Linked DNA regions of Homo sapiens. The protein of the gene in region 3 purifies or fractionates together with the protein of the main gene of each other region. This does not show direct contact. Each region holds a gene or a part of one and is shown on either strand. Other genes may lie near its edges. The genes, in order: ARL1, TRAPPC8, ACTR2, NDUFA10, CEP85L, UPF2 and TPD52L2.

Region 1 (4,531 bases), on a different chromosome or scaffold from region 3:
CAACATTCTTTTTTTTTTTTTTTTTTTTTTTTTTGAGACAGAGTTTCACTCTTGTTGCCCAGGCTGGAGTGCAATGGCACCATCTCAGCTCACTGGAACCTCTGCCTTCCTGGTTGAAGTGATTTTCCTGCCTCAGCCTCCCGAGTAGCTGGGATTACAGGCACCTGCCACCATGTCCAGCTAATTTTGTATTTTTAGTAGAGATGGGGTTTCTCCATGTTGGTCAGGCTGGTCTCGAACTCCCGACCTCAGTTGATCTGCCCTCCTCAGCCTCCTAAAATGCTGGGATTACAGATGTGAGCCACCGTGCCCAGCCAATGTTTATCAACATTCTTTTGACTCCATCACATCTGAGGGATATGGTACATATATCCACCAGAAACAGTGAATCATTAAGGCATTGATTCTAACATGTGTGGGACAGAATTGGCAATTGATATGTCAGTTTCTTCCTTAAAACAATAACAATATGTTCTCCCCTTTTAAATTTTCTCTAGGCCATACTGGAGATGTTACTATTCAAACACAGATGCAGTCATTTATGTAGTAGACAGTTGTGACCGAGACCGAATTGGCATTTCCAAATCAGAGTTAGTTGCCATGTTGGAGGTAAGAAAACGTAACCACTTTAAAATGTGGGGCAGTCATTTACATATTATTACATTGAAGAATAATTAAAAAGAATGCAGGGGTTGTTCCCTCCATCCTTTTAAAATTATTTTCTTTTATGGAAATGATTTTCTATTCCAAAAATACAGTTGAGGAGGGTTGGAGACAAAACAACAACAAAAATTAACCTCGTAACTTCCTCTTCAAGCCAGATTGCTTGATTTTCCAGGAGGTTCAGAAGAGCTCACTTAAACAAAAGCATCTATTCTAAGTCACTTCTTTGATGTGACTTTTAAAATATGTCTTTTTATTTTTAGCTGTTTTAGAAGGATTCAAGTTCAGAGAAATATGTATTTCTGGGTTACTGGCACAATGCTGGCCTCACGTTTATCGTTTTTTATCCTTCCCAGTGTTTACAGTGCTTTTGACCTTCTTTCTGTTCTTTGGACACGAGCTTGCACACCTGGCTCAGGGCCTTTTGCACTTGCTGATCCGTCTGCTTGGAATACTATTCTCCAGCATCTTTGCATGGCTGCCTTCCTGACGTGTTTCTTCCCACATCTCTTCCCCAGAAAGAAGTCTTATTTATTCTCTAATCCTTTACCCTTCTTTATTCTTTATACCGATATTGTTTCTTTTTTTTCTTTTTCTTTTTCTTTTTTTTTTCTTTTTTTTTGTAGAGACGGGGTCTACCTATGGTGCCCAGGCTGGTCCCAAACTCCTGTCCTCAAGTGATCCTCCTGCCTCGGCCTCCTAGTGTTGGGATTACAGGTGTGAGCCATTGCACCCCACTTACTGTTTTTTTACATTATTTTTAAATGTATTTGTTGGCTGGGCGTGGTGGCTCACGCCTGTAATCCCAGCACTTTGGGAGGCCGAGGCGGGCAGGTCACCAGAGATCATCAGGAGTTTGAGACCAGCCTGTCCAACATGGTGAAACCTCATCTCTACTGAAAATACAAGAAAATTAACCGGGCATGGTGGTGTGTGCCTGTAGTCCCAGCTACTTGGGAGGCTAAGGCAGGAGAGTCACTTGAACCCAGGAGGCAGAGGTTGCAGTGAGCCGAGATCGTGCCCCTGCACTACAGCCTGGGTGACAAGAGTGAGACTCTGTCTCAAAAAATAAAAATTAAAAAAAAATATATTTGTTTACTTATGTATCTCTCCCTCTAAAATGTAAGTTCTTTGAGTTTACCCTGATAGGAGGAACAATGTATAGTACTTAATTAAGAATTCAATACATCTTATTCACTGAAGTTAATAAGATCATATATTGGCTAACTGATCAAATTCAGAGGATGCATTAAATAATCCATTTTTAAAAAATGAAAAAATAATCAAATGTACTATGATAATAATAAAATTGCCCTTGCTCTGGAAAATTAGATGGATAAGTTTCTTTCTCTTGTCAAAAACTGGATTCTGAATTGTTTAATCAAGGGATGTTTAAATATAAGTTCTAGGCCAGTTGATACCTAGGTAAAAGCATCCTCAGACGAGGGGACTATGTACTTTTGAATTCTTTTTTTTTTTTTTTTTTTTTTTTTTTTTTAGACAGAGTCTTGCTCTGTCGCCCAGGCTGGAGTGAGTGGCGTGATCTCCACTCACTACAATTTTCGCCTCCTGGGTTCAAGCGATTCTTCTGTTTCAGCCTTCTGAGTAGCTGGGACTATAGGCTTCTGCCACCACACCCGGCTTATTTTTGTATTTGTAGCAGAGATGGGGTTTCACCATGTTGGCCAGGCTGGTCTCGAACTCCTGACCTCAGCAGTTTGCCCGCCTCCTGATCTGCCAGCCTTGGCCTCCCAAAGTACTGGGATTACAGGCATGAGCCACCGCGCTCAGCCCAGGACTTTTGATTTCTTGAACTACTGACTTAATGGCTTCCAAGTTATAAATTGCAGACTTAATAGTTTTAAACATTTGGTTAATTTTTTTTTTTTTACATCATAGCATTATATTTATTATAAGAGCTTCTTAGACCAAATTTAAATGTAAGGATAAGGTTTAATTGCCTTGGGTATAATAGGTTTTTTAAAGAACAGTTTTATTTAGGTATAATTCACATGATATAGTGTATTTTTATCATATAAAGTATTGCTTAAAAGGAATGGATTATTGACTTCAGTTTACAATTTTTGAGTTGTGCAGGATTGTTGTTACTTGCAGTGTTAGGATTTGACTTATAAAGTCTTACAGAGAAAGAAGTAAAAGTTGGATTCTTTCTTTAGGAAGTCACTTTTAATTCATCAATAAATATCATGTTATGTTAAGTATGGGCCAAGTACGAGTCAGGACTGTTAATGTTAAAACATATAGACACAGGCCAGGTGTGGTGGCTCACGCCTGTAATCCCAGCACTTTGGGAGGCCGAGGCAGGTGGATCACTTCAGGTCAGGAGTTTGAGACCAGCCTGGCCACCCATATCTACTAAAAATACAAAAATGAGCCGGGTGTAGTAGCGCACGCCTGTAATCCCAGCTACACGGGAGGCTGAGGCAGGAGAGTCACTTGAACCCAGGAGGCGGAGGTTGCAGTGAGCTGAGATAGTGCCACTGCACTCCAACCTGAGTGATGGAGTGAGACTCCATCTCAAAACAAACAAACAAAAAATATATAGTATAGACACAAAAGCAGTTTAGGTTTCAACTTTTTTTTTTTTTTTGAGACGGAGTTTCACTATTGTTGCCCAGGCTGGAGTGCAGTGGTGCAATCTCGGCTCACTGCAGCCTCCACCTGCCAGGTTCAAGCAATTCTCCTGCCTCAGCCTCCTGAGTAGCTGGGATTGCAAGCGCACACCACCACACCCGGCTAATTTTTGTAATTTTAGTAGAGACGGGGTTTCACCATGTTGGTCAGGCTGGTCTTGAACTCCTGACCTGGTGATCCACCCACCTCAGCCTCCCAAAGTGCTGGGATTACAGATGTGAGCCACCGTGCCTGGCCTTTCAACTTTCCTATACACAAAAATGAATTCTAAATGGGTAAATAATTAAATGTAAAAAATGAAAATTATAAGAACATATAAGGAATTCAAAAGATGAGATTTAATTATATTAATGTAAACAAAACTCCCCCAAAGCTCAGATATGGCAAATATAAACAAGATTAAGATAAGAAACCAGGCCTAACCAGAAGCCAATGACTAAGGATTAGTGATCTGAATCATAGCAAGATCTTTTGCAAAATGAGCAAAAGGCAATTCGTAGGGGAAAAACATTGCTAATAACATTTGCATTTGTTTTTAAAGAGACAGGGTCAGCAGGGCGCGGTGGCTTATGCCTGTAATCCCAGCACTTTGGGAGGCCGAGGCGGGTGGATCATGAGGTCAGGAGTTCGAGACCAGTCTGAGTGACCAACATGGTGAAACCTCATCTCTACTAAAAATACAAAAATTAGCTGGGCGTGGCAGCGGGCACCTGTAGTCCCAGCTACTCAGGAGGCTGAGGCAGGAGAATCACTTGAACCCAGGATGCAGAGGCTGCAGTGAGCCAAGATTGCACGACTGCAACTTCAGCCTGAGCAACAGAGCGAGACACTGTCTTAAAAAAAGAAAAAAAAAAAAGAGACAGGGTCTCCCTCTGTCCCCTAGGCTGGAGTGCAGTGGCACAACCAAAGCTTGTTATAACCTTGAGCTCCTCTCTCTGCTTCCTTTTTTGTTTGTTTTTTAAAAAAATTTTTGTAGAGACCCCTGTGTTGCTCAGGCTGGTCTCCAACTCCTGGACTTAAGCGATCCTCCTGCCTCAGCCCATGTGCATTTCGAATACCCTAGTAATATATAATGAGATGCTATGTTTGGAAAAGTAAATAATTCCCAACTCTACAAAGGCTGCATTGAAGATGGAGACTTTTATACACTGTTGGTAGGGTAACCTTTCTGGAAAGCTGTTCATGCATGTATTCAGTTTATCAAAGCCTGAAA
Region 2 (4,531 bases), on a different chromosome or scaffold from region 3:
GATTTACTTGAGTCACTCTTCTTATCCACCTGAATTTTCACCAATAAGAAACTAAGAAATTAAAGAGATAGTTATCTTCTGCAGGATATACAATCAAACACTAGTCAGAGAGTTAAACAGAGGAAAAACAAAAATGATAACACTTTACTCACAGCAAGCCAGATGTATTTTTCAGGTCATTAATGCTCTTTTCTGGAACTTTACTGCCACTAAACCATTTTTTAGTTGCAGAAAATAGAGATCGACTCAAACCTTTTCTTGATATTAGCTTTAAAAAAGAGATTAAATATGTTGACAAACAAAGAATTTAGTATTTTTCCTTTACATAAAAAAATTTTAACTAAAAAGCTTTAATAGCAAATGTTCATTTTAATAAAACTGATTTAAAGAAAACTGTCCAATATGCTGGCAAAATCCTATTGAAAATGAATAAGCCTCTTCTAGAGTTGAACAGAATTTCATCATTGATAGTAATTTTGGGAAGTCTTAATATTGGCCTATCTTAAAACGAAAATAAAACAAAACTTCAAATACGTTTAATAATTCTTAAATTTACTATTTACTTAAATTTTTAAAATACTAATCCAAAAAATCAAACCTTACCTGATCGTTTAATTGCCTAATTGTTTTCTCTATATGTGGCAAAAGGCCCCGAAATGTGAACTCTTGTATAAACTGTCGAATTCTATCATGATCAGTAAGTGTTAAACATGCACCATGAATTATTCCAGTATTTCCTTTCTTTGTTTCATGTAACGATGAAGCAGATCTTAGATGATCTGGGCCATCAATACTGTTAGAAGGGTCACTGGATTGCTCCAACTGAAGTGGGTGAGCTCTAAAGTTATTTGGTAAGCCATCTACTGAAAAAGAGATTATTTCTTTTACTCTCAGAATGCAACAGAAAACAGTGCTAATACTACCATACTGCTAAAGAAAAAAAAAAAGCAGAATGTTAAAATCCTTTATCTTTCAGTATAGGTAAATGTCTAAGATAAAACAGCAGTAACATCCCCCAGCCCCAAAATTAATGAGCTTGAGTTAATATTTGTTTTGGTACCTGTATTAGTAATTTGAAAATCGGTATAAACCAGGAAATGGAGAAAAATACTTTATTTTAAATAATATAAAGAATGACTTTTAAATAGTACAACTAAGCCGTAAGAAAAAATATAACAAAAAAAATTTGTTATCATTACAAAAATCATAAAGTCAGAAATAAAGCTCTCAAAATCATGTAAATTTTTAAATAATTAATGCTGTGCATCACATCTTCCCTTGCTTTCTACAAAATATTTTAAAAGAAATCTATACACTACTCATATAAAACAAATTTTTAAGTGTCAAAAACAAACTCAAGTAGCTCAGTAAAATCTTCAGAAGAAAAACTAACCTGCCCAATATCTTTCTGTATTATGAAAAATTTCCCCCATCTTTTATCTATAAAGGTTAGCATGATCTGACAACAGTGCATATTTTCAATCAAAAGAGAAACTTAGAGAAAATATATCAAGACCTTTGACTTCGTTATCTAATCCATCCAATGAAAGCAAGTTATTATCAGAATTCTTATTTGAAGTTATAGTACAAGGGCCATCTTCATATGATTCCTATCAAAATAAAATTTAAAAAGCATTAGCAGTTATACTTAATCATACTTAATATACTATCAAATCCATCAACAACTATGGTTACTCTGCTAACTGTTGGCCTCATTTATTTGCTACAGTGAGCATTTTCTCGTCCTCCAAATTCATAACTTCTTCCATGGATCTTATTCTATCACTCCAACTCACACCTACTATATTCTTAAATCCCCTTTCACACTCAAGCTACTATCCTAATTCTTCTTAATTCAAATTATCTCTCAGGATATCTACTTATATATGATATGTATATACACGAGTGTTCATATAAGCACATACATATGCTTATGCCTCTTAAGTAAGGAATAATGGCAAGAGAGATGGACTACTAGAGTCAGACGGGGAAAGAAGAGAGGCACAGATATGAAATTCTTTGGGTCACAGTGTAAGCAGGTTGGAGTGAATTCTGAATATACTGAAGTGTTTTAGAAAAATATCTAACGCAACGTTTATTTGTGCAAAGGAACTGGTTTCTCAGTTAACAAAAAAACACTTAAACTAAAAATACCCAGACTACTCTACAAGACCAGTAAATATGATGTATTATTCTGAGTGTCACACTTTGAGGGAATTTACATAAACTAGAACTCAAGAAGAAAGTGACCAGGACAAGAAAGTCTGAAGCCACTCCTTGAGAAAGAGTTGCAGAAACTAGGCATATTTAGACTGGAAAAATATAAAAGAGGACATGAGAATTATCCTTCTATATTTTGAAAGTTGTCTTAATGGAAAACTAACATAGTCACTCCCAAAGGATCAAGCGTACAAGCAAAGGTCAAGAATTTTTTATTGATCCTTAAGCAAAATGAGAGAATTTTTGGGTGATCAGACATGCAATAGGTCACTTAATAAGAATACAGTGAGTACTGTCAACAGACGCAGTCATTCGTAAGTTTAAAGAAATTAAAGCATTAGATCAAGCATTGGATGTAAAACCTCTAAACTATTCTCCAACTTTGAGCTTCTAGGATGCTAAGGCATAGATTTCTGATATTTCTGCTTTCTGCTAAAAGTTCTCATACTGCACAATCTTCTTCATGTTCCCCTTCACAACCTTAGGTGACTGAACTCTAAAGTGTATTTTTTTCAGTACTGTTCTTATTCTTAGAATGGCCCCTAAAAGACCATTTTTAAAAATAAAGTTCCTTCACATCCAACTGGTACTTCTTTGCTTTTCCCCAGCATTATCTTAAAGAACGTCAGTAATCACCTCAATACTAAAGTCAGTAAAATACCATGATAGCACTACATTTAGATTTAAAGATTCCATTTATGAGACAGAAAAATAAAGCAAATAAACAGATTAAACAATACTTATATCAGAAGATCAAAAATTACATAAGCTTTGTAATTGATTTTTTAAATGTCACACACAGAGTGCATAATATAGTTTAATTGAACAATATAAATATATTTTCCATTTACTTAAGAATTTCTAGGCCAGGCGCTGTGGCTTACGCCTGTAATATCAACACTCTGGGAGGCTGAGGCGTGTGGATCACTTGAGGTCAGGAGTTCAAGACCAGCCTAGCCAACAGGGTGAAACCCTGTCTCGACTAAAAATGAATCGCTTGAACCCAGGAGGTGGAGGTTGCAGTGAGCCGAGATCTCGCCACTTCACTCCAGCCTGGGCAACAGAGTGAGACTCCGTCTCAAAAAAAAAAAAAAATTTCTGGCCGGGTGTGGTGGCTCAGCACTTTGGGAGGCTGAGGCAGGGGGATAACTTGAGGTCAGGAGTTCGAGACCAGTCTGGACAACATGGTGAAACCCCATCTCTACTAAAAATACAAAAATTAGCCAGGCGTGGTGGCGGGCGCCTGTAATCCCAGCTACTCGGGAAGCTGAGGCATGAGAATAATTTGAATCCAGGAGGCAGCTGTTGCAGTGAGCCGAGATCATGCAGTGAGCCGAGATCATGCCACTGCACTCCGGCCTGGGCGATAGAGTAAGACTCCGTCTCAAAAAAAAAAAAAAAAAAAAAAAAGAATTTCTTCTAGGCCGGCATGATGGCTCACACCTGTAATCCCAGCACTTTGGGAGACCAAGGCCTGGGCGACAGAGCGAGATCCTGTCTCAAAAAAAAAAAAAAAAAAAATTTTCTTCTAAACAAAAAACAGTGACTCTCGATTATCTGAACTAAGCATAGGAACTTGGCATTTGACTACTACCAAGCGGCATACTATTGTACCTTAGAAGTCTGACAAAACATCAAACGCCCATCAACTTAAGCCAATAGGACAATCAATCTTATTCTAGAACTCGAGGTTAAGAAAGGAGTAATTAAAAAACAGTAACTCCTGAGAGTACATAAAGAAGGGAAATCAACGGAAAGTTGGAGGGAAATGCCCACCCACCTAAAAAGTATGAGTTCCTGAAGGTGGCTATAAAAGCATGTTAAAAAGGTACGAAAGAGGCTGGGCATGATGGCTCATGCCTATAATCCTAGCACTTTTGGAGTCTGAGGCGGACAGATCACCTGAGGTCAAGAGTTCGAGACCAGCCTGACCAATATGGTGAAACCCTCTCTCTGCTAAAAATACAAAAATTAGCTGGGCGTGGTGGTGTGCGCCTGTAGTCCCACCTACTTGGGAGGCTGAGAGAGGAGAACTGCTTGAACATGGGAAGTGGAGGGTTGCAGTGAGCCAAGATCGCGCCATTGCACCCCAGCCTGGGCAACAGAGCGAGACTCTTTGTCTCCAAAAAAAAAATTAGCCGGGCATGGTGGTAGGTGGTGGACGCCTGTAATCCCAGTTACTCAGGAGGCTGAGACAGGAGAATTGCTTGAACCCAGGAGGTGGAGGCTGCAGTGAGCTGAGATTGTGCCACTGCACTCCAGCCTTGGCGACAGAGCAACACTCTGTTTCAAAAAAAAAGAAAAGAAAAAG
Region 3 (4,531 bases):
GGCATGAGCCACCATGCCTGGCCCTACAATACATATATATTTTTTTTGAGATAGGGTCTTCATCTGTTGTCCAGGCTAGAGGGCAGTGGTGTGATCATGGCTCACTGCAGCCTCAATCTCCCAGATTCAAGGGATTCTCCCACCTCAGCCTCCCAAGTAGCTGGCACTACAGATGCACACTACTATGGCTGGCTAATTTTATTTTTTGTAGAGACGGGGGTCTTGCTTTGTTACTCAGACTGGTCTTGAACTCCTGGGCTCAAATGATCCTCCCATCTTGGCCTCCCAAATTGCTGGGATTATGGGGAAGAGCCACCGCGCCTGGCCAATTACAATGATTGTTTAGATTCCAGCTTTGGTCCCAGCTACCTAGGAGGCTGAGGTGGGAGGATCACCTAACCCTGGGAGATTGAGACTGAAGTGAGCCGAGATCATGCCACTGCACTGCAGCCTGAGCAACAGAGTGAGGAAACCCTGTCTCAAAACAGAAAGAAAAAAAAAAGGTTACCAAAACTTATACCCTTAAAAAAACCACCTCCACCTTCAGGTGGGTTCACATGAAATCACCCAAAATATCTGGAAAAACTTCACACAGCAGATCTTATTAGCAAAACCTCCTGCCTTAAGCACTTGAAGCCTGATAGTGTGGCTTCTCTCCATTCTCTGGCTGCTGGCCAGCATGGGGTCAAGTTTTCTAATCACCTTAATGAACTGTTAAAACTGCAGGCATCCCATTTCTTTGCACCAAATCTTATCCTGTTCTGTATTTGTCCACCCATGTCCCTCCTCACTTATTCATCAGCTTATTACTTTATACTTGTGTATATGTGTGTGTGTGCATATATATATCAAATATATATATGGATTTTGTTTTGTTTTTGAGACAGGGTCTCGCTCCTTCACCCAGGCTGGAGTGCAGTGGTGCAATCCTAGCTCTCTGCCTCAAAACTTGAGCCTTGAACTCCTGGGCTCAAGCAATCTTCCCACCTCAACCTCTCAACTAGCTAGGACTACAGGCACGTGCCACTACGCCTGGCAAATTTTTGTATTTTTTTTGTAGAGACAGGGTCTCATTATATTGCCCAGGCTGGCCATGAACTCCTGGCCTCAAGTGATCCTCGTATCTCAGCCTCCCAAAGTGCTGGGATTACCGGTGTGAGCCACTACACCCAGCCTATTTGTATATATTTTTGTAGCCTACCTCAAATTCTTTGAGAAAAGAGAGAAGGAAGAAATAAAACATGTTTTACATTCCTAGTTTGCTTATCTTTTGCCCTGTGCCAGCCACTTTCTTCCAAAATAGTCAGGTAGATGGAAAATCAGACAACTAGAGAAACTGTCAAGAAGACTTCAGGAAGGAATCTCCAGAGCAAATCTGGAGATGATTAAGTTACAAAATGGGTTTACTCCTAGAAGAAAACCTAGCCAATACCATTCAGGACATAGGCATGGGCAAAGACTTCATGACTAAAACACCAAAAGCAATTGCAACAAAAGCCAAAATTGACAAATGGGTTCTAATTAAACTAAAGAGCTTCTTGCATAGCAAAAGAAACTATCATCAGAGTGAACAGGCAACCTACAGAATGGGAAAAAATTTTTGCAATCTATCCATCTGACAAAGCCTTAATAACCAGAATCTACAAGGAACTTAAACAAATTTACCAGAAAAAGACAAATAACCCCATGAAAAAGTGGGCAAAGGATACGAACAGACACTTTTCAAAAGAAGACATTTATGTGGCCAATAAACATAAGAAAAAAAGCTCATCATCGCTGGTCATTAGAGAAATACAAATCAAAACCACAAAATCTCATGCCAGTTAGAATGGCGATCCTTAAAAAGTCAGGAAACAACAGATGCTGGAGAGGATATGGAGAAATAGGAACGCTTTTACACTGTTGGTGGGAGTGTAAATTAGTTCAACCATTGTGGAAGACAATGTGGTGATTCCTCAAGGATCTAGAACTAGAAATACCATTTGACCCAGCGATCCCATTACTGGGTATATACCCAAAGGATTATAAATCATGCTACTATAAAGACACATGCACACATATGTTTACTGCAGCACTATTCACAATAGCAAAGACTTGGAACCAACCCAAATGCCCATCAACGTTAGACTGGATAAAGAAAATGTGGCACATATACACCATGGAATACTATGCAGCCATAAAAAAATGAATGAGTTCATGTCCTTTACAGGGGCATGGGTGAAGCTGGAAACCATCATTCTCAGCAAATTAACACAGGAACAGAAAACCAAACACCAAATGTTCTCATTCATAAGTGGGAGCTGACAATGAGAACATATGGGCACAGGGAGGGGAACAACACACATGGGGCCTGTTGGGTGGGGGGCGGCAAGGGGAGGGAGGTATAGCATTAGGAGAAATATCTAATGCAGATGACAGGTTGATGGGTGCAGCAAACCACCATGGCACATGTGTACCTATGTAACAAACCTGCATTTTCTGCACATGTATCCCAGAACTTAAAGTATAATAAAAAATAAATTTAAAAAAATTTTAAATGGGGGTTTACTGAATATTTGGATCACTATCTTAACTTTTTTTTTTTTTTTTTTTTTACCGACATGGAGTCTTGCTCTGTCACCCAGGCTGGAGTGCAGTGGCACGATCTCAGCTCACTGCAACCTCTGCCTCCTGGGTTGAAGCAATTCTCCTGCCTCAGCCTCCTGAATAGCTGGGACTACAGGTGCCCACCACCTTGCCCAGCTAATTTTTTGTATTTTCAGTAAAGACGGGTTTCACCATGTTGGCCAGGCTGTTCTCCAACTCCTGACTTCAGGTGATCCGCCTGCCTCGGCCTCCCAAAGTGCTGGGATTACAGGCGTGAGCCACCGCGCCCGGCCAACAACAAATTTTTTATAATTACTTTAAAAATGACTATTTTGCATATATTTGTGAATATGTAGAGCTAGTATGCATCATATGGTTTTAAAATACTTGCCTTCATTGCCTATTACTGTTTCATTTTAGTAATAACTAGATCAAAGATGAGACCTGGAAGTACTTTATACTCAGACAAATTTAATAGGCTTAAGATGGTAATTCATTAAAAATTCAAGTAGGATCAACTCCTCTGGTGTTATAAACTATAACCAGGTACTAAATCTCATTAGTTACAATTTCAAGTTAACATTTAACACCTCATTAAAGAATATTAAGTCAGGAAAGGCTGCCACCTACTGAATTAGTAAAGCAATGCTCTAGAATGACCATTTCCAAAGTATGTTTCTTAGATCACTAATCCCATGAAATTCTGAAAAGTCCTAGAGCATAAGTCTGAAAAACACGCATACTATATTAATTGTGCCCATATTAGCATACCAAAGGCTCTGAGTTCTACAGTGAAGTGAAATCAACTCTTTCTCAAACTCATCTGACAATGTAATCCTTTTTAATTTTTGTGAAATGCTTATTAGCATCTCAGGGAAATAAAGTTCTGTAAAACATACATTGAGAAATGCTATGCCAAATACTAGAATCTCAAAATAACATCTCGCATCTAATTATATCCTAGTATAGAGAGTAATTTATGATTCTTGCCTTAATTTGCATTATATGGTGCCCTAAAATAATTAAATAGAAACTTAATGTAGAAAGAGACATTAAAAGTCACACATATACATATTACAACAACCCAAGACAAAAATACTGATTCTAAGAAAACCTCCTTAAGCTGACACCAATAATCATGGCTGTCCACTTTAAAACACATATATATTATACACTGGAAACACTTACTGTATAAGATTCAACTAATACTGTGGTTTCTAAGGCCAGTTTCTGCTCTTGCTCAATATTATATCCCACGTAACACAGTTTTTCTTTAATCATGCGAACCGTTTCAAAATCAGCAGAGTGGTTGAAGGCGTATCCTCGCAACAGAAGTAGCTGGTACAAAACAATAGCAATAAGTTCATAATACATCTGAATGAGTTCTACTCTGCAAAAGCTAGTAATGCTCATTAAATATGTCACATCAATAACAAACAGAATGGGCAGTGGATCCTCAGCTCCTACTATTTCAGAAGCAGGATTTTATCCGCCATAAAAGGATTTATATTTCAGTTTCAGAGAGGGTAAAAGAATTAACAATTCATAAGTAAGTCAGTAAAATGACTAGAAAAGTCAGTTTTTGAAAAGCACTGCATGAGTACTAATGTTTTGATAGTTTTGATAAACAATCAAAAGTATATTAATGAATAAATATTATTTTAGTACTGGACTCCTGTAGCCTGCAGTTTGCTCACACAATTAATGCCATATTTATGAAATGCCCCCAAGTCTTTAAAAGTTTTATCTTTAGCTTCTAGTACTGTGTCTGGCACATATTAGAAGGACAATAGCATTTGTTTAACGAATGATAAGGGAATTATTGGGATACTCAAAGGTATAATCTCCATTGTTACATTTCTTAAATGCTAGAAAATACTACTATTTTTTTAAAAACCCACTGAGAGAAAAAAAATTACTAGACTTTACAAATAAAAAAAAAATC
Region 4 (4,531 bases), about 170 Mb from region 3:
GGTGACAGCAAAGGGTCCCAACATCAGCTAGAGTCATTCTCCTTCTACTACAGTGAACACCTGAGCCTGCCCAAGTGCTCCCATAGCGTGACTTTCTCCACACATTCTAAGATGTATACTTAGGGCAAGAAAGATGCCTGTTACGAAGCAGCACTGCCTGTCTTTCCTGTCTGCCTCGTGCCTGAGTGCAGGAATGAAAGAGCACCAAAAATTGGGGGCAGCGGCCTGTCTGTCCGCCATCTGTCCTCAGCACACTCTCTTCTTGTCACCTGACTCTCCCTGCATCTCTCCAACTTGCTCGCCACCTCCATCGCTCACCCATCTCCCCGCAACCACTTCTCCCACTTTCTACGGCTGTCACCTCTCTCATCATCTGAAATGCACTATGCGAATTTCAGAAACTTGAATATCTAATTATGAGTAGCAAGTTTTAAAATTTAAAACTCCTTACAGTCTCACACTATCTTCTCAGCCCGTTTTGTTTTCTTCACATCATTTACCTCTATTTGATGTATTTATTTATCTCCTTGCTTGCTGTAGGTCTCCCCCATCAGCATATGAGCTCACGGGTGAGGACCTCATCCACCCTGCTCACTGGTATGTCCCTAGCACCAAGCAGGGTCTAGGACAGGGTGGATGCTCAATCAACACTTACAGGAGAGAGAGGAAGGAAGAAAGAAATGAATAGGCCTGCGGTTTCAACCTACAAAATGATGAAAACATTCTAAAACTGGATTATGGCAAGAGTGGCAACAACTTGGTAAATTTACCCAAAATCATTCAGTCGTACCCTTAAAATGGGTGAATTTTATGGAGCATAAATTATACCTCATTAAAGCTGTTCAAAATAAGAAAAACCCTATCATTCAAAGAATATTTACTGAACATGTATTAATTCCAGTAATGCGACGGGGCACAGGGAAAGGATGATACAGGCAATGCTGCACTTCATTGCTCTGTCAAAAGGGGGAAAGGCAGTAATTGGGAGTTCTATTTTCCAATAAGGACTTGGTGTCTGGGCAGAGACCATCTTTGTTCATCTTTGCAGCCTCCTAGGTGCCTGGCACAGGCGCCTTGCATATAGGAGGTGCTCTGTATTAGAGGAGTGAGTGAAATCAACAAAAGTATAAAAGAGGTGATATGATTCTAAATCTCTATCATTAGCTATGTGCCAAGTAGAATAAGATTAAATGTTAACTGATTATAAAAGAAACTCTAGTGTAATATAAGCCCATAACATGCAACATAACACAACCATCTCAGAAATCTGACCTGAAGTTACTTGATAAAATATGTAGTTATTGATCACTTTGACTGTTTTCTTAGAATCTAGAAATGGTTTTCGGATATTCCTATCAGTTATTCCCAAAAGGTGCAATACTGAGACACAGACTGCATTGAAATAAAAATCAAAATAAGAACACAGACTTACTGATAATGTGATGTCTTTTATAAAATGGGGTAATTTTACCTGATGACAGTATTGAAGACTTTACTTGGAAAAATTAAGAAGTTGACAGCTCTACTTTAGACCTCAGAATTATTTTTGAAATACTGTTTTCCCAGATAACAAAAGAATTATCTAGAGAATGTTAAATGTATGACTTTGTTTTTCTCAATAAATGTCAGCATAATAAGCAAAGGTGTCCAGTTAGTCCACTGAGAAACAAACATTTTGAACTTGCAGTTCCCTCCTTTTGCCACTTGATGGAAGGTTCTTAGAAGTCTAGCTATACAACATACTTACAAGCATATGCTTAAACAATAAAAGTTCCAGAGTGGCAATAGAAAGGCATACATAGACATCTCGCTGTTTCTACTATTGCAACAGAGAAGGAAAGTTAGTCCCATGGATCTTTCAGGAGCAGCAAAAAATAACCAGAGCTTTACTGTTGCCCTGACAAGAACCCACCATCCAGAGAGGTATTTCCTGAGCACCTACAAGAATTCCGGCACTGAGGATGGGCATCAGAGTGAGGAACAGGCAGGTAGCCCTGCATTTTCATCACAGTATCAAAAAGGAGACCATATTCTCCTCCAGGAAAAAATAACATAGTATTAAACAAGCAGTGAAACCCCGTCTCTACTAAAAATACAAAAAAATTAGCCGGGCATGGTGGCGTGCGCCTGTAGTCCCAGCTACTTGGGAGGCTGAGGCAGGAGAATGGCGTGAACCCGGGAGGCGGAGCTTGCAGTGAGCCGAGATCGTGCCACTGCACTCCAGCCTGGGTGACAGAGCGAGACTCTGTCTCAAAAAAAAAAAACAAAGAACTCGCCACAGGGCAAAGACGGTCTTTGTTTCATCTCAGGATCCTCCATCAAGCCGCCAACAGAGCTACCAACGGCCACAGGGTCACTTCAAAAGGCGTTGCTTCGAGGCCACCTAATTAAGATCCAATGAAAACTACAAAGAGTAAATGGATGTGTGTGGATATCACTGCTCTACTGTTCTAGAATTGGTAAGTAAGAAAAAGGGGGAGAGGCACGATTTGCGTTAAATAGATTGAAGTGATGAGGGATATTAGAAATTGCTTCCAATGTGGAAGAAAACGATAGGACACAAAAACCTCATCAGAGAACAGAAAGGTACGTGACAGAGGGATGGAGGACGCTCTGCCAGGAGGCCCTCACCAGCCTCCCAAGTTTAAACAGCTGAGGGGACTCGGGGACCACAGTGGGACCGCAGAGCACTGGTGGGCGGCAGGCCCGCAGGCTGTGGCACCAGGCCGAGCCATGGGGTCTCCCCTCCACCCCTGCAGATGCCCTCTCTCAAGTGGGAACAGGGTGTGTGTCACCCTCCTCGTGAGGACTGGTAGGAATTAGTATAAATGCTATTAAAACAGGGCTTTTAGTGCTGATCTACATTCAAAATAGAGATGCTTGGCCTTTGATTGAAAACTGCATTACATCTCCTTTCTTCTGAATCCGCCTCTGGACCTCTGGAACGGGCACATCGATGTAAATCACCAGGTGGGGGGGCAGGTAATCGCAGATGGTGACGCTCTTCACCTCGTTGTAGTGGTCCACACCTGGCACATAGGAGAAAGGGGCGCTGTCACCTACCAGTCCCCACACGGGTTTCCAAAACACACTCCTCCTTGAATAAAAGGGCAAACATACACGCAATTCTCAAAGCCACGTACCAATCTACAAACCCTATCTCGGTCACAGTTCTAAGCACTGACCACACACATGGCATGTGACTGTGCTCCAGGTGCCACGGGGCATGTGCAGACAGCAGCTGTGGTGCCCACAACCCTGAAAACAGGGCTTGTCGCCTCCACTGTATTTACAAACCAAAGGTCTGAGGCCCAGAGAAATTAAGCTACTTACACAGAGTAAAACAGCAGCATTTAAACTGTGACCTTAATCATCCTAAAAGACAGATCTTTAGCACATCTTAGCCACATTTAAGGGTTCACTTTTGCTCCTGAGGCAAGACGTAGGTCACGCAAGATGGAGGTCACAGTTCAGTGATCTTTGAACTGAAATATATTCCATATACTTGCAGTATATATGTTGCAGGTATATAGTATACATGCTACTATATTTCTTCACAGTAATAATAGATACAAGAGTCTGGTCTTCTCTGAAGAATAAAGAACAGCTTTAAATACTTTATTTTTCAAATAACTCAGCTGAAAATCATCAAGCTGCATTTATCCCGTTTCAGTAGTATAATCAGCTGCACAGAAGTATCTACTGAGTCAGATTTAGTGACAACATGAAATTGAAAGCAGCTAAGGCTGAGGAATAATTCTCCTAAAGTGATCACTACACAGAATGCATAATCCAGGGGGCACCCGCAGGGCCCGTGCCACCCAAGGGAACCCTGCCGCTCTTCAGAGCACTCTGCACCTGCACATGCTCATGCACACCCGACCTCCCAGAAGCCAACAGAGAGTGCACGCCAGTGCATGTGGAGAGGCCATGCTGAGAAGCCATCCCCTCTGCAGCTTTTCACGTGTGGAACCTTCCAGAAGTGACAGATGGCCATGCTAGGGTCCACAGAAAGACAACTATTTTGCTTTAAAGGAAATGGGCTGGGCACAGTGGCTCACGCCTGTCATCCTGGCACTTTGGGAGGCCGAGGTGGGCGCAGATCACTGGAGCCCAGGAGTTCAGGACCAGCCTGAGCAGCATGGTGAAATCCCATGTCTACCAAAAATACAAACATTAGCCAGTCTCCTAACCTAGTCTCAAAATAAATAAATAAAAATTTTAAAAATTAAATTAAAAAAAAAAGTTCCAGTGAGCATTCCTAGTAACCTCACTCTAGAGGCAACTGTGGGATGAGCCTTTGGCTCAGGGTCAGGAACGGCACGAGCTAAAGAACAAGGAAGACCACCCAGGAGGAGGTGTGACAAAGCAAAGGACGGAGGCTGCCAGTGGAGTACCGTTCACCTGAGCATACAAACACAAACCCGCAGCCAGGCAGAGCACACGGGACCTCGGGTCTGCTTCCTGACTGCTGGACCGGTAGCAGGCCGGTCTCTCCTGCTGCTGAGGTGAAACCTCCCTTCACCGAGTC
Region 5 (3,935 bases), on a different chromosome or scaffold from region 3:
TTTAGTCTAGTTATATATTTGTATAAACAAATAAACCAGTTTCAGGACAGCTTGAATTAATCCACATATTAAGATAAACTCATTTTAATACCAGAAATTATTTACTTATCCCTGCCTTCACACTTTGTTTTCAGACAAGTCCAATTTTAGGGCTGGAATAATTGCTCAAATTATTCAAAAGATATACTGAACAATATTTCAAAAATAAAAATTTCCTTCCAATTATCAGGAAAAAAGGTCCCTACATGAATCAACTCAGAGGTCATTATCTTGACCTTCACCATCTGCTCACTTGCACAAGAAGCAACACAAGTTTTTCATCTAAGGTAGAACTTTTTAAAACTTAAAATTATCTAAGATAATTTTAAATATTTATATTTGCTCAAAAAGGGAAGAAACACAATAAATAATTACATTACTATTTCAGCATGTAACTGAAAAAAAACTTTACAAAGGCATGTCCTGACTTGTCAATAGTTTATTACTGACAAATTGAGATAAAATACATACTTTGGTACAGCTATACTGTCCAAATTTCTTCAATTAGGGTAGTAATTACAAAGTATCCTCTTCCACTATTATTCTATGCCATAGCAAATGTCTCTCTAGAGGCTGCAACATAACAAAGTCCTTCGTTACCTAACTTTAAATACTAAAATGTTCTCTTCTTCCTAGAAAACAATGAAAAATAGACACCATGCCTCAGTGATATACCTCCAAACAAGCTGCTATTATCACGAATAAATTTTAATAGGTTAGATTGCAAAGACATTACAGATGGCTTTTGACATTTTCAGATAAACTGAAACCACTCCCTCCAGCCCCTAGGGATAATGAAGTAGCTTCTCAATCACTGAAGTTACTTAGATGACAGGATTTGTGAATAATCTGTAAACTCGGGAAACCTCTGAACTGTCTCCTTAGGACAAATAACATACAATTTAGAAAAAAAAAATCCCTACTTAATACTGCTTTTTACTAAATTCATGCCTACATTAAATTTCAGGATCAAACTTAAGTGAATGATTCAAATCATTCATTAACATACATTAAGTGTTTCAGGACCAAACTTAAGTGAATGATTCAAATCTAACTCTGGCTTTTTAAAATGTACATATGTCTTTTTAAAAACCACACATCACAAATATCTAAACTATCAAAGAATTGCATTATTCGAAATTTCAATAGCCTGATACTAGTGACTCGGTCAGTGCCTGATTTTTTTTAAATAGCAGAAAATATTACCATCAAAAGACCCCTTTCCAAATGCTGCTTCTGCTTTTTTGTTTTGTAAATAACAGCTTTGGAAATGTATGCAAAAATATCTCTAAGTTACACAAGTCGAGCTCAAACACTTTGTGGAGCAAGGTTACTTAACAGGAGTCCCAGAAACAGCTAAAATTGTAGGGAAAATTTTGCGTATGTATATATGGCATTGTTTTTTCTGCGCAGAATGTCCATATAACTCAGTTTCTCAAAAGGCCTCAAAACTCAAGATTAAAAGTGCCTGGAAAGACCATCATCTTTAGAGAACATATCACAGGCAACCCAAGACTTATTTTTTATCCCAAGTTAGGGGAGGATTTATCCTAATTTTGTGGCTCCTACACAACTTCTGAGCGACGCAAGCATGAAATGGCTGTCCGATACAAACAGACCCCTTCAGATACGGAATGCAGCAAACCCCTAATTTTCCTTGAAGGGGCCACGGAAAGCCAAACGGATTCGTAACCCGGTTGCTCAATGGTCCATTGGCTACTGCAGGACGCGCCCTCCTCTTACGCCGCAGGGGCTGCGGGGCGGCGACCAGGTTCCTCCGAGGGGCTGAAGTTCCCTTGGGGGTGGCTGAGAGCGGCCGCATCTCTGGCAGCATCCTCCCTCCCGAAAACGCGCCCTAAAAGTAGCGGCTGCGGGCGTGGGCACAGCCAACCCCAGCCTGCGCCTACCAGAAGTCGGGAGGGCGCGGAACTGCGGCCCCTCCGAGACGCGCCCGGGCCGCCGCCGCAGCACTGTCGCAGCGACCTTCCCGCCCGGGTCCCCGCGAGCAAACGGGCAAGCCCCGTTATCACGCAGGTCACACACCCCACGAGTAAAAGGAAAAAACCGGGCAGACAATAAAGCCCAACCCGCGGGGGCCCAAGCGAGCTGGAAGTTGGGGGCGCTGGGGCTGCAGCCCAAGGAGGAGCGGCGGGGACGACGGGATGCGGGGCTGATGCGCCTGGGACGCGGCAAGCCATATGTCAGCCCGGGTGCTGACAGCGGGGAGGACACTGGGCACGCGGCGGCGTCGGGGAGGCGGCCGGGGTAAGACAGGCCTGAGGCGGGAGGGGAGCGGCGGCGAGGTCCCGAGGCGCCGCGGTCGGCCGTGACCCCCACCCCAGCCGGGGCGCTGTCCCGTTCCTTACCGGCAGGGAAGCTGCGGGCTCCGCCGGGGCTATCCCGGCCGCTGGCCTCCGGAGCCAGGAAGCGCCCCCACATCGCGGGCGAGAGGGCCGGGTGGGCCAGGGACGCCCGACTCCTCACGTCCGTCCTCCTGCTTCTTCGGCGGCGGAAACTTGCGCGGAGCGTGGGCCTCGGCGACACGGGCAGGAGGAAAGGCGGGATGGCTGGTTAACGGCTGCTCAGCTACGGGCGGGGAGCGCAGGGGCCAGATTCGCCGCACTGCCGGCGCCTGCCATGGCCAAGCCGGCTGGGCTGAGGCCCGCGCCGGGGAAGCGGCGACTCGGCGGTGACGGCTGCTAGATCCCCGGCTGAGCCCAGGCTCAAAGGCTCCAGGCGAAGTTGCAGCTGCGGGTTCTCTCCGCCCCCTCCGCCGGCAGAGCCAGAGCCGGGGCTGGGGCCGCGAGGGGGCGGGGCCTCGGGCAATGACTTCAGGCGTGCGCGGCGCCGCGCGGGGCGGGGACTGCGGGGGGCGGGGACTGCGGGGGGCGGGTGAGCTACCCCGACCCCGCTTCGCCTCCTTGGCGGCGACTGGGCTGTCCCGCCCTCCCGCCGCATCCCTCTGTCTCCATCCTCCCGCCCTGCGAGTTGAGTAGAGGGCAGCGACTTGGCCTATTTTGCGATACTCGCCCCTCCCTTGGGTAATCCCTCACGCCCTCCCTCCGGGCACCTCTGTGAAGACACGTGGAAGACCTGCCCCTGGCGTCACAACCGCTCGAGATGAAAAAGCCAAGCCAGGGCGCGGCTGAGGGGGCTTCCAGCCTCCCTTGGAATTAGGATTGGGATTTAAATCCTCATCTGTATTCCTTCGTTTATAGATTACTTTAGGGGCAGAAAAGGGGTGGTTTTCCTTTACTAATTTAATGGGGGCGTGGGGGCAACACAGGCACCAGAATATAGCACCGGGATGTGCACCGGAAAAGGCCCGGGGGTAATTAGTACCCGAGGGGGAGAGGGGCCGTCATTGTAATCGCACAACGTTTCAGATTAGCAAGCAGAAAGTAAAAATGGCACCAAAGTCTGTAAAGGGAGCCCTTTCCTCCTTGCCCCCTACTCCTTCACGTTCTTCCTCTTCTTGGCCAGTTTCCACCCTTCACCTGAACCCTTAGTGCAGGAGGAGACGTCCTAAGGAAGGGCGAAAAGGGACAGCATCGTTTTATTTTTAAATCTTACTTCTCACTGGCAATATGGTGATGCTTCCAACGTTTAGTTACGAACTAGTTCGTATAAAAAATTCTGGGCCAGCACTGTGGTGGGAGGCGGGCTCTGCAGTAGGCCCATCACTCAGAGGTAAGTCGGAACGCAGGTCGCTTAACTAGAGAGGCTTTGAGTTCCGCTTTTCCTGTTCTGGAATCTTGCTAACAAAGGCCTCATATTTGCATTTTTCCCTTAAAGACATTTTAATTGGGAAATACTACTTAAAATTCTTGGAAGTTAAATTAGATTTAGGTGTGTGTTCTATCACTTACCACATCCGTGTTGTAATTTATCTGATT
Region 6 (3,500 bases), on a different chromosome or scaffold from region 3:
GCTGACACCTATAATCCCAGCACTTTGGGAGGTCCAGGCAGGCAGATCACCTGAGGTCAGGAGTTCAAGACCAGCCTGGCCAACATGGCGAAACCATGTCTCTATTAAAAATACAAAAATTAGTCAAGAGTGGTGGACTGCATACCTGTAATCCCAGCCACTCGGGAGGCTAACAGAAGAATCACTTGAACCCAGGAGGTGGAGGGTGCACTGAACTGAGATTGTGTCACTGCACTCCAGCCTGGGTAACAGAGCAACATGTCGTCTCAAAAAAAAAAATCTTTTTTTTAAACTACTTTTTTTTTTGAGACAGGGTCTGGCTCTGTCGCCCAACCTGGAGTGCAGTGGTGTGATCTGGCAGTCTCTGCCTCCTGGGCTCAAGCGATCCTTCCACCTCGACCTCCCAAAGTGCTGAGATTACAGGCGTGAGCCACTGCTCCTAGACCTAAACTACTTTATAATCAGTTTCCAAATAAATTTCCCTTTATCTGCTGTATAACATTACTAATATTAATAACTGATTTTTTTTAATAGAGTTTCGCTCTTGTTGCCCAGGCTGGAGTGCAATGGCGCAATCTTGGCTCACTGCAACCTCACCTCCCAGGTTCGAGTGATTCTCCTGCCTCAGACTCCCGAGTAGCTGGGATTATAGGTGCCCGCCACCATGACCGGCTAATTTTTCTAATTTTAGTAGAGACGGGGTTTCACCATGTTGGTCAGGCTGGTCTCGAACTCCTGACCTCAGGTGATCTGCCTTCCTCGGCCCCCCAAAGTGCTGGGATACAGGTATGAGCCATCACAACCAGCCTTAAAATGTAAATTTTAAAAAAGGCAAAGAACATCTGGTCCTCTAAAGGGTAAAATCTCATGTTTCCATGTTTGTTCATCTACCATGTTTATCGCACCTATACTTTAGGAGCATTGACTATAAAAATTCCATTCGTGATACTTTACAGAGTGCTATTCTTAAGACTGATGGACAAGTTAGGTTTTCTTTTTTTAAGGTGCTATTTTAAGAAAAGATCTTAAAACAGGTTGAGTGGCTAGCTCAAAAGCTAGGACTCTTACAAAAAAGAAAAACAGAGGGAAGAGCTAGGGAGCAGAACTGGAATGAGAACGTTTATTCAGTGACTGAACACAGACTGTGAAAAGTTCTTTTGTCCATTCACCAAATATTTACTGAGCACCTACTAGGTGCCAGGCACCAAGAGCTGTGAAGGAGACAGAATGGAAACAACATGAGACTTGGTCCCAGCCCTCATCGCCTGTAATCTCATGGGGAATAGAGACAAGCTAAGCGGCACTTAAGGAGGACAAGGTCTGCAGAAATACCATAAGTCATGGCAGCAGATCCGCACTGACCTATGTCAGACTCAGGAACACCAAGGCAGGACCCGAAGGAGCAGGAGTTCTCCAGGGGAACAGCTGGAGACTGTTCCACACAGAGGAGGCAAAAAGAACACAGAACTAAAGGTCAGCTAGGCTGCAGCAGGAGAAAGAACAGCAGGAGATGAAGCCAGTAATGTATGTCCACCTGCACCACAGGGCCTTGGGAACCAAGTTGAGGAGTTTAGACTTTTTATCCTACAAGCCACGAGGAGCCATTGGATGATTTTAAGCAGAAGGGCACACACAGATATCAAATTTGTGTTTTAGAAAGAACACTGGGTCTATAGCGGGAGAATGAATTGGAAAGGGTTGAAGGTTGAGACGGAGAGGCTGATGAGGAGGCTGAGGCAGCAACAGCAATCCAGGCAAGAGGTGATGGTGGCTTGACCCATGGTCTTGGCTATGGGCAGAGAATAGAAAAGGCAAGAGTGAGGGCCATTTGGGAGCAGAATGCAGAGGATTTGCTAATGAACTACATTTAGGGATTGAGGGAGGAGGAGCTGTCAATAACACAACTTCCTTTTCTTTTGTGGACAAGAGGGCAGACAACGCTTCCTCTCCCTGCACTGGAGACCCTGGGGAAGAGGAGTCTGGGGCAGGGGCACGAGTCTTCCATCTCTGAGTCACAGTGGGGTGGAAAGTCAGAAATGAAAATGTGAGATCTGGGCTGGAGACCTGGATGGAAGTCAGGCCACTGGGAGGGATGACACCTCCTTTGAGAGTGCAGAAGGAGAAGAGGGCCCAGGCTGAGCCCAAGGAACACAGACATCCCTAGGCAGGGAAGCGCAGAAAGGAGGCAGTGTCAGCAGCAGGAGCCACAGTGATCGCGGGAAGGGAAAACCCAGAAGCCAGCAGAATCACAGATGCCAAGGAAGGGTCTGTTGGGAGAACAAGGAGGGCCTACAATGCAAAGTGCTGCTGAGATGAGGCCAAGAGATGGCAGGTGGGGATGCCAGTGATGGCAGAAGCTGCCTAGACCTAGGGACTGAGAAGGTGACAGGAGTCAATAATGAACCTCTTTTCTAGCATAGCCACTGGGGTGGGCAATGCCTCCCACTGCCAGCTGTGACTTGGCAGGGGTAAGCCACCCAAGTGGGAGCAAGGAAGAAGGGGCAAGTGTAGCCGATTCTTCCAAGGAGGAATTGGAGGGAGGAAGGGAAAATAGAAAGTGAAGGAACTCTGCAAAGTGACTAACACCGGTAACCAGGTTAAGAAAGGCTTACCTCTGTTCACACGCACGTCGATGACAGCACACACATGCTCACGTCGATGACAGCACACACATGCTTACATATCTCCTGCCTGGTCCTTAACAGACTCTCACCCAAGGTTTTTGAAACAGACAAATGAAGAGGGTGGAATTATCTTTCAAGTACCCATACTCGGCTTCCCTACTGGACCACAACCGTGCAGGTAAAGACCCTGTCTTGTACTCCATCTTCCACAGTGCAGTCCTGGATGAGTGTACACGGAGGGAGGCAAATCCTACTGGATGCCCCTTATGTCATCCAACTCCATAGTGAGTCTACACAAATTACTAAGACACTATACTTGCGATACATGAATTGTGAGGGGGTTAGGGATTAATAAAAACGTGCTATTCAGAGACGTTAGGCTGCAATATGAACAGGTGAAGATGATGGAAAACATCAAGATATTATGCTGGTGCAAAAGTAATTGCAGTTTTTCCCATTACTTTTATTGGCAAAAACCGCATTACTTTTTACCAACCGAAATACAAATATTCTAACAGTTTTGGTCTCTGATGATGAGACAGGAGGGAATAGATGTTATCAAGAACACTGTGGCATATATTTAAAGCTACTCTAAGAAAATGCAAAAGCAGGAAATGAACATTTTTCATTGCCTGTTAACCTAGCTAGTGTCCACATTTTAGCAGCAATAAAACAGGCTTAATTAAAGGACTTTAATAAAGTTTGGATAATTAAAAATAACCTAATATCTTATTGTGCCTAATTAGATGGGTTTACAGGTCATTTCCAACTTGGATTTTTTTTTTAAATTATACTCAACAGATGCTAAAGAACAGATCTCTAAACTGTCTTGACAAGCCAGTTTTCTACATTACAATTTGATTAGAGTTATCTGAG
Region 7 (4,531 bases), on a different chromosome or scaffold from region 3:
CTCACCAACCCCGAGCACCACAAGTTACCCAACAGCACTGGCAGCCAACCCTCCCTGAAGAACACAGCAACGGCAGAAAAGCAGCCAACGGGGATGGACGAACCTCCCAGGCAAGGGTCTGCACACAGACTGGTCGGGGCCATGATGGATGGCCACATCCCTGAGCCAGTGCATCTGAGCCCTGATCTCCAGGCAGGCTTCCTGTAGCACCTCCAACACCTCACCTCACTCCTGGCCAGGTCTCAGGGCAGCAGAGTCAGGGTTGCGTCTCACCTCATGTCTCCAAGCTTCCTGCTGATGGCAGAGCCCACTGTGGACAGGGCAGCTGAAGTCTTCTGTCCTGCCTGTGAAAGAGTTTCCTGAGTCTTCTTGTAGCTGGAAGACACACCAGTTAAATCAACCAGACAGCATGGGCGGGTCACCACCCACAGCCAAGCAAACAAAGCACTGGGAGCACGCCCGAGGAAAACTGAGGAAAGGAGCTGGGCCAAGGGGTGGACACTCGCCAGGTGTCTACAGAGGGGGTGCAGGCCCAGAGCCCCTCGGCCCCCAGAGGCCCCTGCGGCGAGGAGCCGCCTGTGCATTGCTCGCTCACTGAGCTCTCGGCGACCCTGCCGAGTCTCGGCCCCCCAGCCCTGCAATGACGCTGCTTTCTCATCTCACAACCCAATTTCACCCCCTTGCCTGATACCCACTAAGCTCGCTTTCCTGTCTTCTCACAGCCCCTCTGACTACAGAGAACACGCCCCATTTGCCTGCTAGAGCGGACGGGCCCCCTGAGGTGCACGCCTGGCAGGCAGTGCCAGAGCAGAAAGGCCTCTCAGTGCCCTGACCGGCCCATGCGTGCAAGTTTCCCTTTCCTCTTCCCAAATGAGACTGTGCTGAGGGGAGAAAATGCAAGCTCAACCACGTCTGTGGGGAACGAGCGTCACAGAGTGGCCATGCAGCCCGCAAGGTGCCCCTGCTCCAGACGGCGGGGCCCCGTGTGCCTTCAGAACATCGGACAGTTCCATTCCCAGGCCTCTTTTCACAGTGCAAGGGTCTGTCCTGGCCCCTAGTGAAGGCCCCGCTTCTATCCCCTCCAGCTCCCTCCAGTGTCCACCCACATGGGTACATCCCATCAAAGCAAAGCTCTAGGGCCTTGGCGTCTGCAGGACAGGCAAAGGGCAGCAGGCAGGATGCTGTGGCTGCAGGGATACTGTTGGGCCCACCATGACAGTCAACACCTGAAGTCGCTGGCCCTCATCCAGCTGCCACCATAAACACAAAACACAGCAGACTCTGACATAACAAAGTCCAAAATGCGAACCCACAGCCACCTTATCACGGCTCCTCCCTCAGTGAAGCCAGGGAACTCGAGGCTGAATGGAGATGGGCTCCCAGGACCATCTTGGCGTTACCAGTGCCAACCTGGAGAGCTGGCAAACCCAGCCAAGCCCTGAGTGGCATCTGGGATGACTGGCGCCAGAGAAGGCACAGGCTCCTCCTGCTCCCACTGGCGGCACCAGGTCCCAATGATGGGCCTTCCGGAGCCCTTACTCACAGGCCCTCCCACCACTCCCTGCAGAAGGCCCGTGTGAGCTGAGTGCTACTACTCTCCAGCCCCCAAACAGTTGACAAGAGTGTGTGACCCACCAAGTGTGCCCTGGCAGCGCATCCCAGCGCAGCTCTCTCATGCCCGCCCCCGGCCCAAGGCCTACCAGAGGATGCACTTTCTTTCTTTTTTTTTTTTTTGAGACAAAGTCTCGCTCTGTCACTCAGGCTGGGGGGCAGTGGTGCAATTTCAGCTCACTACAACCTCCGCCTCCGGGTTCAAGAGATTCTCCTGCCTCAGCGTCCCAAGTAGCTGGGATTACAGGCACCCACCACCACGCCCTGCTAAATTTGTCTTTTTAGTACAGATAGCGTTTCACCATGTTGGCCAGGCTGGTCTTGAACTCCTGACCTCAGGTGATCCACCCGCCTCGGCCTCCCGCAGTGCTGGGATGACAGGTGTGAGCCACTGCGCCCAGCCCGCTCGGATGACAGGTGTGAGCCACCGTGCTCAGCCCAGAGGATGCACTTTCCCATCCAGGCTCCGTGCAGCTGGAATCATGGCTGTTTTTAAATTTTTTCTTCTTTTATTAATAAAACACCAGTTATAAGTAACTAATGACCTGCTATATTTAGTTTCAAAAACACAAATTCTTTTTTTTTTTTTTTTGAGACAGAGTCTTGCTCTGTAGCCCAGGCTGGAGTGCAGCAGCACCATCTCGGCTCACTGCAAGCTCTGCCTCACGGGTGCACGCCATTCTCCTGCCTCAGCCTCCCGAGTAGCTGGGACTACAGGCGCCCGCCACCACATCCGGCTAATTTTTTTGTATTTTTGGTACAGACGGAGTTTCACCGTGTTAGCCAGGATGGTCTCGATCTCCTGACCTCGTGATCCGCCTGCCTCAGCCTCCAAAAGTGTTGGGATTACAGGTGTGAGCCACCGTGCCCAGCCCAAAAATACAAATTCTGAAGACATCTTTAACCTTGATTTTCCCTGAAATAACAAATGCATAAAACCATGTGAACATTCTGTGGTTCGCTGAAGCAAAGTCACCTGCAGCAGAGGATTCTAAAGCGCTCACAGCACCTGCATTTGTGCCTAAAGAGTGGGGATGGGGAAGCTGCACCTGCATTTGTGCCCTAAGAGTGGGGATGGGGAAGCTGCACCTGCATTTGTGCCTAAAGAGTGGGGATGGGGAAGCTGCACCTGCATTTGTGCCCTAAGAGTGGGGATGGGGAAGCTGCACCTGCATTTGTGCCTAAAGAGTGGGGATGGGGAAGCTGCACCTGCATTTGTGCCCTAAGAGTGGGGATGGGGAAGCTGCACCTGCATTTGTGCCCTAAGAGTGGGGATGGGGAAGCTGCACCTGCATTTGTGCCTAAAGAGTGGGGATGGGGAAGCTGCACCTGCATTTGTGCCCTAAGAGTGGGGATGGGAAAGCTGCACCTGCATTTGTGCCTAAAGAGTGGGGATGGGGAAGCTGCACCTGCATTTGTGCCTAAAGAGTGGGGATGGGGAAGCTGCACCTGCATTTGTGCCCTAAGAGTGGGGATGGGGAAGCTGCACCTGCATTTGTGCCTAAAGAGTGGGGATGGGGAAGCTGCACCTGCATTTGTGCCTAAAGAGTGGGGATGGGGAAGCTGCACCTGCATTTGTGCCCTAAGAGTGGGGATGGGGAAGCTGCACCTGCATTTGTGCCCTAAGAGTGGGGATGGGGAAGCTGCACCTGCATTTGTGCCCTAAGAGTGGGGATGGGAAAGCTGCACCTGCATTTGTGCCCTAAGAGTGGGGATGGGAAAGCTGCACCTGCATTTGTGCCTAAAGAGTGGGGATGGGGAAGCTGCACCTGCATTTGTGCCCTAAGAGTGGGGATGGGGAAGCTGCACCTGCATTTGTGCCCTAAGAGTGGGGATGGGGAAGCTACACCTGCATTTGTGCCTAAAGAGTGGGCATGGGGAAGCTACACCTGCATTTGTGCCCTAAGAGTGGGGATGGGGAAACCGAAGTTGGAGAGAAAACAACCGCCTGTGCCCGGCCTTCAGAATGAGATGTGGGGTCCTGAGCGTGACCTGTGGGTGGGTAAGTACCACCCACACAAGGAGGATCGGAATGAGATGCGGGTCCTGAGCGTGACCTGTGGGTGGGTAAATGCCACCCACACAAGGAGGAGGGTCCTGAGGGTTCCTGGCCACTGACCACTGGCCACTGACACCCGGTGCCACTGTGATCAGTCCCTGCTGTGCCATAAACCACACTCAAGCCCCTGGGGGCCCCACAGCCCTCAGCATTGCTCGGGTGTGGAAATGAGGGGGTCACAAGGGAACCTCCTCTAGAAACAGGAACCTCCAAACTGGGATGGCCCTGGAAACAATGGGCATCACCTGCATAGCCTGAGGCCACCACCAGCGCCTCCCTGGCCTTCTCTTCCTACAGCAGGTCCCTGCCCAACAGCTGTGGCTCTGACCTCTCCCTTCCCCTTCTCAGTCCCATCCTGGGCCTCCAAGGTGGCGGCAGCAGCTGTGAGGCCCCCTTCCAAGGCTCACAGCGCTGCAGGCCTGTTCTGAGAGCGTCAAACACACAGGCACACACATTCCTCAGTGGACCAGAAGGCTGGGTTGTTATTACTCCATGACAGATGGGGAAGCTGAGCCCGGGAGGAAGGGGCAGGGGTCAGAGCCAGCATCTGCACCCAATAACTAGCTTCAGCTCTCCTTGAGAGCACCGGGCCGGGCAACCCCAGCCAGCACCCATTTGGGAGTTCCTAAGACCTTCTAGGAAGAGAGCCCTGGACAGACAGCGGTTTCGTCCCACTGCCAGTGAGCTGTCCCCTGGGCAGCACAGGGCATCTGGGGGACATCCTTGCACTCCCCCTCTCCTGAGTCTGTCTCTGGGGGCTGCCCCCACTCCCACTCAGGATGGACAAGTGATCCAGGCCTGGCCAGAGCACACCACCTCCAAGGCCGCAGCCATTAGTCCAGGGAGACCCATATGGGGCCA

The links.
Region 1: the proteins of ACTR2 (region 3) and ARL1 purify together in Homo sapiens (affinity purification with mass spectrometry; one large-scale study listed by BioGRID and IntAct). This does not show direct contact.
Region 2: the proteins of ACTR2 (region 3) and TRAPPC8 purify together in Homo sapiens (affinity purification with mass spectrometry; one large-scale study listed by BioGRID and IntAct). This does not show direct contact.
Region 4: the proteins of ACTR2 (region 3) and NDUFA10 purify together in Homo sapiens (affinity purification with mass spectrometry; one large-scale study listed by BioGRID and IntAct). This does not show direct contact.
Region 5: the proteins of ACTR2 (region 3) and CEP85L purify together in Homo sapiens (affinity purification with mass spectrometry; one large-scale study listed by BioGRID and IntAct). This does not show direct contact.
Region 6: the proteins of ACTR2 (region 3) and UPF2 purify together in Homo sapiens (affinity purification with mass spectrometry; one large-scale study listed by BioGRID and IntAct). This does not show direct contact.
Region 7: the proteins of ACTR2 (region 3) and TPD52L2 fractionate together in Homo sapiens (co-fractionation; one large-scale study listed by BioGRID). This does not show direct contact.

Annotation. Positions count from the first base shown.
Region 1 is NC_000012.12:101,397,140-101,401,670, reverse strand, and holds part of ARL1 (ADP-ribosylation factor-like protein 1), read left to right. Parts: intron 1-497; coding exon 498-609; intron 610-4,531. UniProt on the Homo sapiens protein: GTP-binding protein that recruits several effectors, such as golgins, arfaptins and Arf-GEFs to the trans-Golgi network, and modulates their functions at the Golgi complex.
Region 2 is NC_000018.10:31,908,151-31,912,681, forward strand, and holds part of TRAPPC8 (trafficking protein particle complex subunit 8), read right to left. Parts: intron 1,611-4,531; coding exon 1,517-1,610; intron 1,495-1,516; exon of another isoform or gene 1,434-1,494; coding exon of another isoform or gene 1,394-1,433; intron 864-1,393; coding exon of another isoform or gene 861-863; coding exon 604-860; intron 269-603; coding exon 153-268; intron 1-152. UniProt on the Homo sapiens protein: Plays a role in endoplasmic reticulum to Golgi apparatus trafficking at a very early stage. Maintains together with TBC1D14 the cycling pool of ATG9 required for initiation of autophagy. Involved in collagen secretion.
Region 3 is NC_000002.12:65,254,938-65,259,468, reverse strand, and holds part of ACTR2 (actin-related protein 2), read right to left. Parts: intron 3,925-4,531; coding exon 3,775-3,924; intron 1-3,774. UniProt on the Homo sapiens protein: ATP-binding component of the Arp2/3 complex, a multiprotein complex that mediates actin polymerization upon stimulation by nucleation-promoting factor (NPF).
Region 4 is NC_000002.12:240,011,832-240,016,362, forward strand, and holds part of NDUFA10 (NADH dehydrogenase [ubiquinone] 1 alpha subcomplex subunit 10, mitochondrial isoform 1 precursor), read right to left. Parts: intron 3,030-4,531; coding exon 2,908-3,029; exon of another isoform or gene 1-2,907. UniProt on the Homo sapiens protein: Accessory subunit of the mitochondrial membrane respiratory chain NADH dehydrogenase (Complex I), that is believed not to be involved in catalysis. Complex I functions in the transfer of electrons from NADH to the respiratory chain.
Region 5 is NC_000006.12:118,648,792-118,652,726, forward strand, and holds the start of CEP85L (centrosomal protein of 85 kDa-like), read right to left. Parts: upstream 2,801-3,935; 5' UTR 2,479-2,800; coding exon 2,406-2,478; intron 1-2,405. UniProt on the Homo sapiens protein: Plays an essential role in neuronal cell migration.
Region 6 is NC_000010.11:11,924,310-11,927,809, forward strand, and holds part of UPF2 (regulator of nonsense transcripts 2), read right to left. Parts: intron 1-3,500. UniProt on the Homo sapiens protein: Involved in nonsense-mediated decay (NMD) of mRNAs containing premature stop codons by associating with the nuclear exon junction complex (EJC).
Region 7 is NC_000020.11:63,878,563-63,883,093, reverse strand, and holds part of TPD52L2 (tumor protein D54), read right to left. Parts: intron 376-4,531; coding exon 274-375; intron 1-273.